Linked DNA regions of Homo sapiens: region 2 is linked to region 1. Evidence: fine-mapped expression QTL. A gene starts in region 1. The other region holds a variant in brackets. All regions are shown on one strand. Distances are from middle to middle.

Region 1 (2,889 bases):
AGCGGTGATCTGACTGTGTGTGTTGAGGACTGGGTGGCGAGGGCTTGGGGGTTGCCGGGGGATGCAGGAGAAACACGGTGATGCCCATCCACCCCCAGAGGCTCTGGGCCCAGGGTGGGGGCATAGACCCAGGCAGGGGAGGACCTCTCAAGTCGCACCACAGTCTCCTGGGTGCTGTTACCTCCGAGGCGTGGGCTGTGCTCCCGTAAGAGCCCCTCTTCTCTGCCTCAGGGGGGCTCACATCGATCAGGACGGTGCTGTCCTCTTCCTGGGCCCGTCGCCGCAGCATCCTGCTCCTGCACCCAGCAAGGCCGGGTGGGGATGGGGGTCAGAGAGGGGATGGGTGAGACCCGTTCCTGGGGCCACCACACTGCCTGCAGTGAGCTCACTTTACAGACTCGACTCGGAGTAGAATGGGGCTGGGCTGGCTCGGCAGACTCTCCTGGCCATGAGCACATGGAGAACCCCCTAGCCAGCCACGAGCTCCAGGAAGAAACCAGTGCCGGGGCGGGAGCGTCTGGCAGGCCTGGCACAGCAGGCGTCTGTCTGTCCATCCAGTGAGTGCCCGTGTCCCCCAGCCCTGAATGCCGTCCACTCTGCCTGGGTACTCAGTGGAGCCTGAGAAGGCCCAGAAAGGTGGGCCTGGAGTACAGACACCTCTCCCTCTCTTATCCGTAGGGTGGAGCCATGTGAGCCAGGGACAGGAAACCCCTCAAGTCGCCTGCCTTCGCTCATGGCCTGAGGACCCAGTGCCAGGACCCATAGGCCCTGAGCTCCCCAGCAAGGCGGGCCTGATGGAGCCCGGCCTCACAACTCTTGGGGGTCCCAGCTTCCTCCCGCACCTTCGCCCCGGGGGTCTCTCTCTGTGGGAGGACAGGTGCCGTGGCTCCTAGTCTTGGGCTGGCAAAACGGGGCCAGGAGCACGACATCTGTGGCCCTGGAAGGAGAGGGTTCGAGCTGGGGCTGGCATTTGGAGCTGCGACGATGACCGGAGGGTGTGACCATGGAGGCGCCGCAGGAGGTCGGAGGGGCAGCCTTCTAGTTCTACCCTTCACTTCACATTAGCGGAGGCCCAGAGGGACAGAGACTGAGCCTGGGCCGCCTGCACCTGCCTAACCCTGAAGCCCGAGCCAGGTCTCAGTGTTAGGACTCGGCCCCGGCCCCAGGCTGGGAGCCTCACTACGGACTGTGGGGTGTTCCTGGAGGAAAGTCCCCGAGGAGTTTCGGCCACCCAGCAGCCCCTCATGCCCCCATCCTTCTGTGGTGGGCAGGCGGGCCCCTCCTCAGAGCTCTCTGCAGAAAGAATGGGGATGCCCCCCACCCCAACGAAGGGACCTGCTCCATGGGGGAGCCCCTGGGCAGGCAGGAAGCCAACCCCAGCTGGGTGTACCCCGTCCAGAGCCGCACTGAGTGTGTGTCCCTCCTCGTGCCCCAAGGGGCTTTGGGGACCAGGGCGGGCCCTGGCACTGCCTCCCCACAGGCCAGGGTGTGTGAAAGTCCCGGTGGGCTGGGGTGCCGCCCTGCCTCCCTAGAGTCCAACGCTCCACCTTCTCCCTGTGGCCCACACGTCTAGGCTGGGTCCCCACCTGGCACAGTGGCTTCCGGAAGAGGTCTCGGAGGTCATGGCCCACCTCTCAGCGTGAGCCTGGTCTCGGCAGTAGAGTCCCGTCCTCACTGCGGGACAGAGGGTGGGGAGGGGTGGCCCTTGGAGCCCCGCCCAGGCAGTGGCAGCCATTCGCATGCCCTCACCTTGCCTGCAAGTGGGCCAGGAAGCAGGCAGGGGAGGTGCCCAGCACAGCTGGCCAGGGCAAGGCTTCCCGGCTCCTGGAGCAGGATCTATCTTTGTTTAAATAGGGGGTGTGGGGCTCAGAGCTGCAGACAGAGGCAGCCCACTTGGCTGGGCTTTCACACACCCGCATGCAAATGCTGCCGTCCTCCTGGGAACCTTATTTGCTTAGAGATTTCAGGGCTGGCATCAGCTGTCATAGTTGCTGCCTTGGAGGGTCTCGAGGAGGTGGGATTCCACAGGAACAGCCACAAGTGCCACCTCTGCTGGAAGCCTTGCCAGGCAGACCTCGTAAGCTCTGTTTATGTGGGGGGAAACTGAGGCTCCTTGAGGTTACGTAGCATGTGCTGAGTGGTGGGCCAGGGTTTCACCCGGGGGCTGGGGAGATTGGGAGACCCAGATCACACTGCTGGCTCTGCTAATGCCTGAGGGGTGACCTCAGGCACATCCCATGCTCAGGGCCCCATCTGCAAAAGGACAGGAGGGGTCCTAGCCTTCCTCCCATCCTTTCCGCCCTCCTCCTCGTCCTCATTCTCCTCCTAGCCCTCCTCTTTCTCCTCCTAGCCCTCCTCCCCCTCCTCCTTTCTCCCCCTCCTCCTATCCTTTCTCCCCACCTTCCCTCTCCTCCTTCTCCTCCTATTGTTTCTCCCCCCTACTCCTCCCTCTCCTTCTCCTCCTATCCGTTCTCCCCTCTCCCTCTCCTCCTATCATTTCTCCCCCCAACTCCTCCTCCTCCTCCTCTTTCTCCCCACTCCCCCTCCTCCTATCGTTTCTCCCCCTCCCCCCCACTTCTCCCTCTCCTCTTCCTTCTCCTCCTTTCTCCCCACTCCCCTCCTCCTGTTTCTCCCCCTCCCCCCACTTCTCCCTCTCCTCCTCCTTCTCCTCCTATCCTTTCTCCCCGCCCCTCCTCTTCCCCTCTCCCTCCCCCTCCCCCTTTCCTCCTTGGTGCCTGGCAGTGTCTGAGAACCTACCACCCGTGCTCCTCGCCCTCCATGCACAACTGCACTGGGGAGCCCCAAGCTCAGCTTGCTGTTCCAGGTGCCCCCTTCTGCCTGTTGAAATCCCTCCAGGCGGACCCTCATCCTGGCTGCAGCTTTCCCTTA
Region 2 (2,889 bases), 29 kb before region 1:
GCGGTTAAAATAACAATAATATTAACCCCTGACCAAAACTACTGGTGTTATGTGTGAATTCCAGACGCTGTATGAGAAAGCACCGTAAAACTTTTTGTACCGTTAGCTGATGTATGTAGCCCACAGTCACGTTCCTCACGCTTACTTGATCTATTATGACTCTTTCACGTAGACCCTTAGAGTTGTAAGCCCTTCAAAGGGCTAAGAATTTCTTTTTCGGCGAGCTCCGCTCTGAAGACACGAGTCTGCCGACGCCCCCGGCCGAATAAAAAAACCTCTTCCTTCTTTAATCCGGTGTCTGAGGAGTTCTGTCTGCGACTCGTCCTGCTACACTATGACCAACTAGCAATTCACCTAGAATCCACGATTTGCCCTCCAGCCCCGCAAAGCTCCGTCCCTTACCGCGGGGAACCTCCCCCCAGCCCCTGCCCACGGCGCCCCCAGCTCCCCCCCTCCCCCGGCCTTGCCCGGCGGCGCCCGCCCCTCCCGGCTCCCCACCGCCGCACCCCCACCCCACCCGAGCCCCGCTCCGCCTCGTCCTCGTGCGCCCGCGGCCCCCTCCACCTGGCGCGGGGCTCACCTGCACGTGCGGTTGTGCGCGGCGGCGAAGGAGGACGGGGCTCGCGCCAGCGTGAAGTTGAGGAAGCCGCGCAGGTCGTGGGCGCGGGTCCACCGGTAGTAGGCGCGCGGCAGGAAGTCGGACGAGAAGGCCAGGAGGAAGGCCTGGGCGCCGGAGGGGTCAGCGCGAGGCGGCCCCCGCTCCGCCCCTGCGCGCCCCCGCTCCGCCCCTGCGCGCCCCCGCTGCCCCCCCGCCCCGCCCCTGCGCGCCCCCGCTCCGCCCCTGCGCGCCCCCGCTGCCCCCCCCGCCCCGCCCCTGCGCGCCCCCGCTGCCCCCCGCCCCTGCCCGCCCCCGCCGCCCCCCCGCCCCGCCCCTACGAGCCCCCGATGCCCCCAGCCCCGCCCCTGCGCGCCCCCGCTGCCCCCGGCCCGCCCCTGCGCGCCCCCGCTGCCCCCCCCGCCCCCGCCCCTGCGCGCCCCCGCCCCGCCCCGCGCTCCCGCCCGGGCCTCACGTTGCTGATGACCGCCAGGTGCGTGAGGCCCGCCAGGATGTGGAACCAGATGCCGATGTCCTGGGCGCGCTCGGCCACCGGGCGCCGGTACTCGCAGACGAACTTGCGCGCGTCCAAGCGGATCTCCACCCAGTTGTTGAGCAGGGCGAAGAGCGGCGCGAGCGGACAGGCGGCCACGAAGATGGTGACGAAGCCGAACTGCAGCACTGCGGGGAGGGG[G/A]TCACGGCCGGGCTCTCCGCCACCGTCCGCCCTCAGCCCTCGGAACGCGCCCCCCGCGGAGGACCGGCCAGTCCACGTGGTGCCGCCACCCCATCGCGGCTCATTCCGCCCCCACCTCCTGGTCTCCCTCGTCCTGGACCGCGCAGCGCCAGGGCCGCCTCTCCTGACCGGCCTCAGGCCGGCTGTCCTGCCCTGCGCTCCGTGCTTCTGGCTGGTCACGGGCCTTCTCCGGCTCGGTGAGCTCAGGAACTAACTCAGGGCAGGCGTTGGGGCAGAAACCTGCTCCTGATTTTACAACCAGCTTCTCCAGTCACCCCACAGGGGAGCTGTTAGGAGAGGGCTCTTTGGAAGGGGCTTCTGGGTCTTCGCCGAGAATTACTAGTGAGATCATTGGGGTCCAGGGTTCAGTGGAGGAGGGTCAGGGCGTCCACTCCTCGCCCTGGGAACTGGCCTGCTCCCTTTCCACAGATGCCGCGGCTACGCTGGGGAGCTCCGGGGCCTGCCGGCTCACATGCCCGCTTGCTAGGTTAAGAGCTGCCTGCCGGGCACAGTTTCTCACGCCTGTAATCCCCAGCACTTTGGGAGGCTGAGGCAGGTGGATCACCTGAGGTCAGGAGTTCGAGACCAGCCTGGCCAACACGGTGAAACTCCGCCTCTACTAAAAATACAAAATTAGCCGGGCGTGGTGGTGGGCGCCTGTAATCCCAGCTACTCGGGAGGCTGAGGCAGGAGAATTGCTTGAACCTGGGAGGTGGAGGTTGGAGTGAGCCGAGATGGCGCCACTGCACTCCAGCCTGGGCGACAGAGGGAGACTCCGTCTCAAAAAACAAAACAAAAACAAACAAACAAACTGCCTGATGATTCCTTCTCCCTTTTGTCAGCTCAGAGTCAGACCCTGCACTGCAGGGACGGCACAGGTGATACAGACCCACCCTCCAGAGTGCACCACCCGTGCAGGCAGTGAGCCCCTGGCACTGGCCACCACCTGGTAAGGTGACAGTGGTAGGTCTGCAAATAGCGTGGGCATTGAGATTTCTGGGAACATTGGCTCTCCAGGCCGCTGCCTCCCACTGTGGCTTCACCCTTGGAGGACTTCTGTCAGCCCCCAGGGCCTGCTCTCCTAATTCTTCCCTTGCTCTGGCCCATGCTTTCTAGGTCCAGGGACCCCAGGGGAGCTCTGCAACGGCCGCGGGGGCCTCCTCCCCGTGCCGGTGCCCCTCTGTCCTCAGCCAACCCTCTTGGGCACTCTCAGGGGAAAAGAATTCCTTTCTGGATTCTCCACAGGCCCGACCCTCTGTTCCCACCCCACCCCCACAGCACATTTCAGGGCAGATGCAGACACAGGAATGTCAGGCTGGGAGGCCCTTGAGCAGAGTGGCCACCCATCCCTGCCCACGGCGCCAGCCATTGCCGCAGCTGCTAACGGGCTCCTACCCATTTCCAGGTACTCGTCAAACAGACCCTCACAGGGCACAAGCTCATAGTCGTCCTCCCAGGGCCCCTGGCTAGCCCCTGCAGAAGCTCCCGCCTTCCTCTTCTTGGAGCGAAGCCGGAACTTCTGCCACCAGCCCTTTAGCTTCCTGGGGACGGGAATACAGGA

The links. PIP is the estimated chance that this variant, and not a neighbour inherited with it, causes the effect.
Region 2: its variant is fine-mapped to the expression of ANO7 in cerebral cortex (GTEx, PIP above 0.99). The same link has a PIP of 0.9 or more in anterior cingulate cortex, cerebellar hemisphere, left ventricle and nucleus accumbens.

The regions. Positions count from the first base shown.
Region 1 is chr2:241,187,464-241,190,352 of GRCh38, reverse strand. It overlaps ANO7 (anoctamin 7), which reads right to left and starts at 1,676. Exons shown (of 25, transcript NM_001370694.2): 1 at 1,587-1,676; 2 at 182-296. The coding sequence starts at 289. It overlaps LOC105373971 (a long non-coding RNA gene), which reads left to right and starts at 1,931. Exons shown (of 3, transcript XR_924064.3): 1 at 1,931-2,077. RefSeq lists enhancers at 1-104, 1,038-1,721, 1,722-2,406.
Region 2 is chr2:241,216,073-241,218,961 of GRCh38, reverse strand. It overlaps ANO7 (anoctamin 7), which reads right to left. Exons shown (of 25, transcript NM_001370694.2): 19 at 2,724-2,869; 20 at 1,071-1,276; 21 at 581-723. Among named protein-coding and RNA genes, the nearest start is that of ANO7, 29 kb to the right of the region's middle. RefSeq lists enhancers at 1-25, 2,133-2,664 and a silencer at 1,369-1,498. The variant G/A (reference allele first, on the strand shown) is at 1,290.